Linked DNA regions of Homo sapiens: region 1 is linked to region 2. Evidence: fine-mapped expression QTL. A gene starts in region 2. The other region holds a variant in brackets. All regions are shown on one strand. Distances are between the middles of the regions.

Region 1 (5,372 bases), 53 kb after region 2:
ATATACTTTTTTTCCTGAACGATTTTGAGAATTAGTTGCAGACATCATAACTTTTCATCCCTAAATATGTCAATAAATATCTCCTAAGAGCAAGGATATTCTTATATAATACATTGTATGTAATTCTCTAATGATGCACAACACAATTAACATAGTTGGGAAATTTAACATTAATAAATATTGTTTTCCAATATATAGTTCATATTTAAGTTTCCCAATTGTCCCAGAAATGTCCTTTAGATCTTTTTTTAAATCTCAGTTTCAGTTATGAGTCAAACATTGTCTTTAGTTGTCATGTCTCTTGATTGTTTCTGGCAGGTTTTCTAACCTTATTCTCTCTTCCTTCTTGTTGATCCCACATACTGAAATTAGTTTTTCTAATGTACTTCTTAGACTAGCCTTGACTCCTTGGCCGGACACATTCAAGGCTCTCCACAATTTGTGCCCATCCTATCCTGGCTTTACTTCCGTAACTACTGGCCAGACACTTTCTGCTCTAGCCACAGTGGACCACTCCTACTTATTTTGTAGTTCCTGCCTCAACTCTCTGCCTGAATTGTCTTTTCATGTACTAAATACTGCCTGTCATTCAAGTGCTGCTCAAATCCTACCACCCTAAAGCTTGCCCTCATGGTCTAGCCTATTGTGATCTCTTTGAACCAGGTATAGTATTATTTTTATCCTTCTGTGACCTTAATTTATGTACCTTTCTATGTTTTCCCTGCTTGGTTAGACTGCCTTATCTTTGTATTCCTCACTGAATCTAGTGTGGTACCTTTTACTGACTGGGGTAATCTTCAGGTGACTGTCACTAAAGAGTTCCCAGGACTCTAGTCTCATAAGGTTGCTCATGATTTAAACTGTTGGAGGCTGGAGTAAGGTCTGATTTCATAGTCTCTGGGGTAACCATCAGCTCTCCTGGCTGTGCCATTTAGAGCCTAGGGTACTTGGTTCCCTTTTGCTTTCAGAAATCCCTAAACACAGCTCAACATTATGACTGAGCTGGGTGTTGGTGTTAATTATGGTGAATTGAATTTTGTTCAAAGAAAACTGTGTGGGTGACCTAACATTCTGATCTACCAGTATCTAATAGCAAAGCTGGATTTAGAATTCAATTGGGCTTTCAAGATTTGGTCATCAGAGTCACAATTCAATGGCTATGTCAAGGGAATTTATCCAGCGCTTTATTTTTTTTTAAATAGATTTCAATTTGCAGTGGGCCCTCTCAAGAGAATTGAAACATATGCTTCTGAATGGTGCTGAACCCAAGAAAACCTCATAGTATGGAATTTTAAATCTCTGCTAAGCATAGGCTGCTAAAATGGAAAAATGCTGAGAGTTCAAAATTAACTCGTGAGCACTAAGATGAAAGGATCATAAACAGTAATATTGGGTTTTGTTTGCCAGATGTCCCTTCTGTGAACAGAGCTTGTGATAACAAAGCTCATTAATACCTGCCACACCCTGTGACGTTGAAGCAGATGTCCTGACTGCAGGTCTCCAGGAATGGAGGGACAAGTGAGGGACAGACAGTTTGTGTTTTTGATGATGAAAGAGGAGCTATTTGGTCTGGAAGAATAAGGTATTCTGTTTGAGTTTTAGTTCTTGTAAAAGGTGCGAGTTAACATACCTGACTATCCCTGGCTGCCTCTGTTTCTCTATCTGGATGTGCCTAAGAGAAGAAGAGAGCTGAGACCAGCCTTGTGTTCCATTGCATCTATAAAGCCCTTCTTTACTGATGCTTGATAGGTAAGAATTTTGTGGCAGAATTTTTTTTTTTGGCTTAAGTAATAAGGAAATTTATTATCTTACATACAGAAAGGCCAGTTGTAGGGCAGAGTTAAAGCGTGGTTAAGACAGACAGTTTTATCTGCAGTTTCACTTTCTGTAGTTCCAGTTATGCACAGTCAACCATGGTCCAAAAATATTAAATGGAAAATTCTAGAAATAAACAATACGTTTTAAATTGCATGCCATTCTGAGCAGCATGATGAAATGTTGCTCTGTCCTGCTCCAGGATGGGAATCATCCCCTCATCCATTGTATCCGTGCTGTGTACACTAGCTGCCCACTGCTTACTTAGTAGCCATCTTGACTGTCACAGTGTCACGGTGCTTGTGTTCAGGTAACCTTTATTTTACTTCATAATGGCCCCAAAGTGCAAGAGTAATGATGCTGGCATATTGTCATAATTGTTTTTATTATTAGTTATCGTTGTTAATCTCTTACTGTGCCTAATTTACAAATTAGACTTTATCCTAGGTATGTGTGTATAGGAAAAAATAACGCATCCACTGGGGGTCTTAGGACATATTCTAGGCAGGTAAGGGGGGACTACTGTACTTTCTGTATGTTATCTTCAATTCTTAGTGTTGGCTGTAGAATATTTTTTTCAGAGGCCAAAATCTTATTCCCTCAGGGTAACATAAAGACAGAGATCGGCTGGTCATGATGGCTCATGCCTGTAATCCCAGCACTTTGGGAGGGCCAAGGCGGACAGATCACGAGGTCAGGAGATCGAGACCAACCTGGCTAACACGGTGAAACCCTGTCTCTACTAAAAAATACAAAAAATTAGCTGGGCATGGTGGCAGGTGCCTGTAGTCCTAGCTACTCTGGAGGCTGAGGCAGGAGAATGGCATGAACCCTGGAGGCGGAGCTTGCAGTGAGCCGAGATCGCGCCACTGCACTCCAGCCTGGGTGACAGAGCGAGACTCCATCTCAGAAAAAAAAAAAAAAAAAGATCAGCAATAATGATTTCTTAAATTTCTAAAATCCCTGTAATTTGTTTAGAAAAAAAAAGAAAGAAGGGCTGGGCGCGGTGGCTCGAGCCTGTAATCTTAGCACTTTGGGAGGTCAAGGCGGGTGGCTCACCTGAGGTCAGGAGTTCGAGACCAGCCTGGCCAACGTGGTGAAACTCCGTCTCTACTAAAAATACAAAAATTACCCAGGCGTGGTGGCGTGCACCTTTAATCCCAGCTACACGGGAGACGTGAGGCAGGAGAATTGCTTGAACCTGGGAAGTGTAGGTTGCAGTGAGCCGAGGTCGCGCCACTGCACACCAGCCTGGGCGACAGAGCAGGACTCCATCTCAAAAAAAAAAAA[G/AAAAG]AAAGAAAGAAAAGGAAGGAAGGAAGGAAGGAAGGAAAGGAAGGAAAGAAGGAAGGAAGGAAAGGAAGGAAAAAGGAAGGAAGGAAAGGAAGGAAGGAAGAAAAAGAAAAGAAAAAAGGAAAGAAAGAAAAGAAAAAAAGGAAGGAAGGAGGGAAAAAGAAAGAAAGAAGGAAAGAAAGAAAGAGAAAGGAAGCAAGGAGAGAGGGAAGGAAGGAAGAAAGGAAGGAAGGAAGGACACTTGGGCTGGTTGTGGAGGCTCACGACGATAATCCCCAGCACTTTGGGAGGCTGAGGCGAGAGGATCACTTGAGCCCAGGAGTTTGAGAACAGCCTGAGCAATAAGTGAGACCCCATCTCTTTAAGTAAAAAAGAAAAAAAAAAAGAAAAAAACAAAAGCAAGGATTGTTCCAGACTATACTGAATATCTGCTGCCATATACACACTCGCTTTCCTTACTTGAACTTTGGATTGCCTCAGTGCACAATCTCATTGATTACCTGCTGCTTCAAGTTTGGTGTGTTAGTCATTCCTTATTACTGGTTAGTAGAATAACAGTGTACACAAAACAGCACAATTTGACCTTTAGAGATATTCATTTGATATGCAGCCGTTTTCAGTAAAACCTAGTGTTTGTCAAGGTTGTAGTCAGTAAACAAAGCTTATTACCCATGGTATTACTTGGATATGTTGCAGATAAAACGAATTGTATTTTGCTTTGGTTGCTGATTTATAGGCACCCTGAAAGGCTGGAATTGAGATTCAATTTTATTGTTCTTGCTATTATTCCTTATATTGCAGAAGAGGATTAGCCTACTCTAAGATAAGAAGTAGAGTTTCTCTTTCTTTCTTTCTTTCTTTCTTTCTTTCTTTCTTTCTCTCTCTCTCTCTCTCTCTCTCTCTCTCTCTTTCTTTCTTTCTTTCTTTCTTTCTTTCTTTCTTTCTTTTTCTTTCTTTTTTTGAGATGGAGTTTCGCTCTTGTTGCCCAGGTTGGAGTGCAATGACGTGATCTCGGCTCACTGCAACCTCCACCTCCTGGGTTCAAGCAATTCTCCTGCATCAGCCTCCTGCCTAGCTGGGATTATAGGCGTGCGCCACCACACCCGGCTAGTTTTGTATTTTTTTTTAGTAGAGACGGAGTTTCTCTATGTTGATCAGGCTGGTCTCAAACTCCCAACCTCAGGTGATCCGCCTGTCTCAGCCTCCCAAAGTGCTGGGATTGCAGGTGTGAGCCACCACACCCAGCAAAGCAGAATCTCTTGATTCCTAACTAAGAACCCTTTTCCAGGCTTGATTTTTGTATCAATCAAGGTAGGCTAGGTAATGCATTACTCCAAAATCCCAATGGCTTATGAGAGCAAGGTTTATTTTTTCACTCGTGCTATGTGGCCATTGTGGTGTGTCTGCTGACTGTAGTTCCTCTGAGGTCCAGGCTGATGGAAATCTCCTCAACATATGCTTCTACCTGGGCATGTGTGTGTTCCGGCTCTTGAAGTGACACATCCTCGTACACTCACATTTCAGTGATCAAAATCAGTCACATGCTCCCACCCAAGGGATGGGGAAATGATCCTATTATGTGCCCAAGAGGGAGGAGAACCTGAACTAGTTGAATATTACCAATGATGACCATGGTTTTTTCATGGATTTTCTTAGAGGAAAAGTTAATGTTTGATTTTTATTATCACTTTGTAGAAGGGAAGCTAGAAATTTTAGTAACAGAAAAATAGAGGAGTGCTCTAATAAGAAGAAAACATGGTTGAATCTTAGGAAAGGTATCCCACATGGCAGCTTTTCAGTTTCTCTGATTATTGGGCATTTATATCTTCTATACTTCCCAAATGAATTTAAGATGACTTAAAATAAAATTTCTTAACAGAATAAATGGTTTTTATATGTGGGAGGCGAGTGCCTCCCTCCTTAGAGGCTTTCTGCAAATCATTTGTCTTTACCTTGGCTCTCTGACCTTGATGAAGTACTGATGTCTGAGAGTGTTTTTGTCTTTTCTCTGATTACCAAACAACAATCATTTATTAAGCATTCATTAGGAAAAAGACACTGCGCTAAATATAGAGATACAAAGATATAAAACTCAAATTTTCTACCTGTAAGAAGCTCATAAACTAGGCACGGTGGCTCACACCTGTAATCCCAGCACTTTGGGAGGCCGAGGTGGATGGATCACTTGAGGTCAGGAGTTCAAGACCAGCCTGACCAACATGTTGAAACCCTGTCTCTCCTCCACCGTGCCCAGCCCCAGCCCAGTTTTT
Region 2 (5,372 bases):
TTGCATTCCAGCCTGGTGACAGAGCAAGACTCCATCTCAAAAAAAAAAAAAAAAAAAAAAAATTAGCTGCACGTGGTGGTGCACGCTTGCAATCCCAGCTACTTGGGAGGCTGAGGTGGGAGAATTGCAGAGGTTGCAGTGAACCAAGATTGCACCACTGCACTCTAGCCTGGGTGACAGAGTGAGACTCTGCCTCAAGAAAACAAACAACAAAAAACTGGACATTTTGGAAAGTTTGATGATGAGGAGGAACACAAAGCAAGAGGAATTAGTGTAGGAATCAAATGTTGAATGGTGTTAATCGAAGATAACTTGATACTGTCTCCATGGTACCTTGTGGTTTATAATTTAATATAGAGACATTATTAAACTGCAAAATACATGGAAGAAAGTCCAACAAAATTCTGGGGTTTTTTCCCGTGATGATTGATGCTTTTTAGGAAATAAATGTCAAAACCTTTCCAAAAATTTTCCTTTTCTTCTTTTGGGTTCCTCTGTCTTGCTGGTGCCTGGCCTGCAGATTGTGCCGATGGGGTGAAGTTGCAGAGCCTAATAAGCAGATGACTCTTCCTGAGAGGATTTAGAGCAGCCCTGTCCAATACAACTTTCTGCAACAAAGAAATGTTCTGTGTCTTGTAGTCGCTAAACACACGTTGCTATTGAGCACTTAAAAATGTGGCTAGTGAAAGTGAGGAATTGAGTTTTACATTTAATTTAGGTTTAATCAGTTAGAATCGAAATTTAAGTAGCCACATGTGGCTAGTGGCTACCATGGATGGCTGTGCAGTTGGAGCCACAGTGAGGGGGAACGTGACACAGAAAAGGGAAAGAGGAGGAGGACATGCCAGCCAGGTGGCTGTGAGCAGCTGGAGGGTTTTGAGCAGAGAGGGCCAAAGGACAGTTCTACCCAGAGGGGCTTTCCAGTAGGGCTTTTCTATGTTTTTCCTTCTCAGACATACACCGGGCAGCCAGGTAGGCCAGCTAGGAGTGGGGCTGACTCATCCATTAGGCCCATCATACTTTTAGCGGTCCACAAAATGTTTTTATTCTTTTAAAATTTAAATTTAATTTCATTAATTTTTTTTAATAGACAGGGTTTCGCTATGTTGCCTAGGCTGGACTCAAACTCCTGGGCTCAAGTGATCCTCCCACTTCAGCCTCCTGAGTAGCTGGGACTACAGGTGCTCTTTCTTCCTAAAAATATGTTTAGTAATGGATGATTGGATGCAGAAAAAAAAATATATGTTTAGGTTGAAGAAAACACTTTAGACTGGGAGCAGTGGCTCAGGCCTGTAATCCTAGCACTTTGGGAGGCAGAGGCAGGTGGTGACATGAAGTCAGGAGCTTGAGACCAGCCTGGCCAACATGGTGAAACCCCATCTCTACTAAAAATACAAAAATTAGTCGGGTGTGGTGGTGAGTGCCTGTAATCCCAGCTACTCAGGAGGCTGAGGCAGGAGAATCACTAGAACCTGGGAGGCAGAGGTTACAGTGAGCCAAGATTCACCACTGCACTCCAGCCTGGGCAACATAGGAAGACTGTCTCAAAAAAAAAAAAAAAAAAATATATATATATATATATAATTCATATATTCATCTTTATGCCAACCCAGTGGTAAGATAATAATTTTTTAAAAAATTTTTAATGGAGAAAGGGTCCTTTGAAAACAAAAGTGCCTAGGACCCAAGAAAGTCATTGTCTGTGTGTGTGTGTGTGTGTGTGTGTGTGTGTGTGTGTGTGTAGCAGGGAAGGGAGAGGGTGCTTTCTTCTTCCAACATTGACAGCTCATGCTAGACTCCTAGGCACCTGCCTGGCCACCACCCCCTTTAAATGCCGCCCCCTCTCCCGGGGTACACCTGGCCTCCCTGAATGGGCCCACCTGCCCCGAGGCCTGGCACGAAGAAGCCAAACAAAAGAACAAAGATTCCTCAACAATCCCAGGGTCAGAAGAATCTTCTGTACCAGGCTTGGAAAATGCACCTGCGGACTATGACATACTTGGGCAAAGGGCATTGTGGGGCCAGGGAGGAGTTCAGGAGCTGTGCAGGAAGAAGGAGGGAGGGCAATGCTATGTTGTAGAAAGGGTGAGCTCATTAAACTTTACAATCCCCCTGATACTGACCCCATTTTACAGACGAAGAAGCATGGGCTCAGAGAGGTTGAGGAGCTTGCCCAAGCTCACAGCTGGGATTCAAACTTAGGCGTCTTTGGTCCGACACCCATGCCCCAGCTCCCTCGTCACAGATCCCTGGGATACCTGACTCAGCCATTGTAGGGCCGCGGGCGGGGCATAATGGACAGCTTCTAAGCTGACCACCCAATCCTCCCCAGTGGCTGTTCTCCATTCCTGCTTCCCAGAAACCCATCCTTCCCGGGCTGATCCTACAAAGGATCTTCTATAATAGGATCTTGGGGCCTCAATTTCCCTTTTGTGCGTGTGCTGGGGCAGGGATCTTCCTCTAGGAATGAGGAAGAGAGAGAGACAAGAGAAAAGCATGGCCTTTCTGCCCCACTGTGCTAAGCCCCCAGCCAGGGTCCTCCCGGAAGCCCAACTCCTGCCGCGCGCGGCCTGGCGTGCAGGAATGGAGCTCGGTCCCTTTAAATCCCGCCGAGGAACGCCTGAGGGCCGGGCCGCGCCATTCCCGGATCCGCCGGCTGGGAATCGCGGGTCCCCGCGCGTCCTGCAGCACTTCCCGCGCCGCGCCCCCAGCCCAGTGCGCCGGCTCTGTGCCGGGGTGCCCGGGCGGTCGGGAGAATGAGCCGCATCTACCACGACGGCGCGCTCCGGAACAAGGCGGTGCAGAGCGTCCGGCTGCCAGGGGCCTGGGACCCCGCCGCCCACCAGGGGTAGGCCTGGGCTCACGGCCTCGGGTCGGCCTCCCCTGCCCCGGCTCGAACCCCGCAACAGGATCGGGTGGGGGGGTGGGATGCGGGTGGGGGAAAACTGGGGTTGCCAAAGCCGCCTCTCCGCCTTCAGTCCGCCCCTCCAGTCCGCCGCTCCCGGCGCCCCTGCCGCCGCGCCCGCCCAGCGACCCCATGACACAGATCGGCTTAAAGCTCCCCGCCTGTCCGCCTGCCCTCGAGAGAGGGTCCCGACCCCCAGACAGGTCTCCGAAGGCTGGGCTTCGCCTCACGCCGACCTCCGGCCCCACCCCACCCGCGTAACTATAAACTCCAGCTACTTGCCGCGCTGCTTTTGCACAGACTCATGCCCTGCCCCAGAAGGGACAGTGGCCGTGCTGTGGCGGGAACAGCGGGCGGGCTGGTCCAGAGCAGGGCCTGCCTGGGTGAGGAGGATTTGGAGGGCCAGGCCCTGTCGTCACAGGGTTATGAGGCCGAAGGGACCATTCCATTTACAACTGCGCTGAAGAATTGTGCTAAGTGAAATAAGCCAGATACAGAAAGACAAATACTGTGTGATCTCGTATATGGAACCTATAAAAGCGTTGAACCATAGAAACGGCAGAACAGACCAGGCGCTGTGGTTCACGCCTGTAATCCCAGCACTTTGGGAGGCCGAGGCGGGTGGATCACTTGAGGTTAGGAGTTTGAGACCAGCCTAATGGTGAAACCCTGTCTGTACTAAAAATACAAAAATTAGTCGGGCGTGGTGGCAGATACCTGTAATCCCAGCTATTTGGGAGGCTGAGGCATGAGAATCGCTTGAACCTGGGAGGTGGAGGTTGCAGTGAGCCGAGATTGTGCCACTGCACTCCATCCTGGGCGATGGAGCAAGACTGTGTCAAAAGAAAAGAAACAGTAGAACAGTGAACAGTGATTGCCAGGGGATAGTGGATGGGGATGGGGTAATGATCAAAGGTACAAACTTTCAGTTATAGAATAAACAATTTCTGGGGACCTAATGTACAGCATGGGGTCTGGTGGGTGTGTTCATTAATCTGTGGTAATCATTACATAGTGTGTACTTAAATCATCACGTTGTGCACCTTGAATATATACAGTCTTTTGTCAGTTAAATATTTAGAAAAATAATTGTGGGGGGTGGGGAAGAATTGGATAGAGACCAGCTAGGTAGAGTTTTCACTTCCCACTCCCATCCCTATTCCACTGTCATCTTCAGCTGTCCCCATGCTTCTCCATTTCTGTGGATGCAAAAAAGGAAGCCTCCACGTTCTGCTTTTATGAAAACCAGAGTCGAGAAGCCAGGGGTCCACTTCCCCTCAGTGAAGGACCGTGTGATCTTGGACTAGTCTCAGACTTCTGAGTTTTGGTTTCTTCACCTCTCAGTAATAACCATTTCCTCGGGTTAATGACCACCTGGATATGAATGAGAAAAGGAATATGAGAGTGTTTAAAAACAGGTGGAAAGGGAAAATAGTTTATTGCAGCTTAGATACCTACCCTCACATTTGGACCAATAAAAAAGTAAAATCTTTTGTATTTAGTAATCACTTAATAGCTTACAAAACACCTTCACACACATGATCTTGTGTCAACATCAGAGGAGCAGAGTGAGGCAGCTGTTTTCCTCCCCATTTTGTAGATAAGACTGAGGCTCTGGTTCCAGTAACTCCCAGTGGCCTTGTAGGAGGGGGCCATAGCTTGATCTTAGGGCAGCCTGACAAGGTTCCTCCTGGCATCTGGGCAATGCCCCAGCCTTTGGGACCCTTTGGAGATCCCTATGTCGGAAGCACGGGGAAAGGAGCTGCTCAGTACCCAGCCTTCTCAGGGCTGGGTAAATAGGAGACACGGGTGAGATTTGCTGAGGACTGACAAAACTGGCTATCCTTTCTTTCCCTTTCATCCCCAGGGGAAATGGTGTCCTGCTGGAGGGAGAACTGATCGATGTATCTCGGCACAGCATCTTGGACACTCATGGCAGGAAGGTGAGGATGCTTCCTCGGTGCTAGCTAGAGGGCACTGACTTCACGGTCATCATCCACTGTGGCATCTCCTTGTGCTGGGTCCTTCCAGTGCCATGAGTTGGGATTCTTGATGGGCTTAGAAAGCAAGTGGGAAGTAGGTCAGGAGATTTATAGCCAAATGGGACCACCAGCTGGAAGAATAGTTTAAGGCTGTGTTGAGCAGCAGACAGGTGGGAGGGCCTGTGTTCTTGCCAGAAGAGCCTGGGTCATGGCTGAGAAGGCAGACCAGGCCCTAAACCCCAGTCTTGCCTGAATGTAAACTCTGACAGTGTCTGGGGCTTCAGTTCCCATGTTGATGTCCTGGCTGCCTTTGCCCTCTCAGCCTCCTGGGGTCATGTCCTGTATCACCACCCCATCTCAGGTGTCTGTGGGTACACCTGGCATTTACCATCCAGTACTAGCCTGTGTCTTTTTTCGGAGCGCTAGTTCCGACTTTCCACTCCCCCTTCAAATAGCCCCACCTAGATGTGCTGACCACCTTATCT

Direction of the effects. Alleles are on the strand shown, and positions count from the first base shown. SD is a standard deviation of normalised expression in the study named.
With allele AAAAG in place of G in region 1, the expression in fibroblasts of the gene that starts at base 2,640 in region 2 is lower (moderate effect, 0.43 SD a copy in GENCORD).

The links. PIP is the estimated chance that this variant, and not a neighbour inherited with it, causes the effect.
Region 1: its variant is the best candidate, but not a certain one, in a credible set for the expression of ARPIN in fibroblasts (GENCORD, PIP 0.54).

What each region holds. Positions count from the first base shown.
Region 1 is chr15:89,857,133-89,862,504 of GRCh38, reverse strand. All of the region lies in intron 8 of ARPIN-AP3S2 (ARPIN-AP3S2 readthrough), which reads left to right. All of the region lies in intron 4 of AP3S2 (adaptor related protein complex 3 subunit sigma 2), which reads left to right. Among named protein-coding and RNA genes, the nearest start is that of MIR5094, 9.1 kb to the right of the region's middle. The variant G/AAAAG (reference allele first, on the strand shown) is at 3,106.
Region 2 is chr15:89,910,220-89,915,591 of GRCh38, reverse strand. It overlaps ARPIN (actin related protein 2/3 complex inhibitor), which reads left to right and starts at 2,640. Exons shown (of 6, transcript NM_182616.4): 1 at 2,640-2,848; 2 at 4,773-4,848. The coding sequence starts at 2,757. It overlaps ARPIN-AP3S2 (ARPIN-AP3S2 readthrough), which reads left to right and starts at 2,640. Exons shown (of 10, transcript NM_001199058.2): 1 at 2,640-2,848; 2 at 4,773-4,848. The coding sequence starts at 2,757.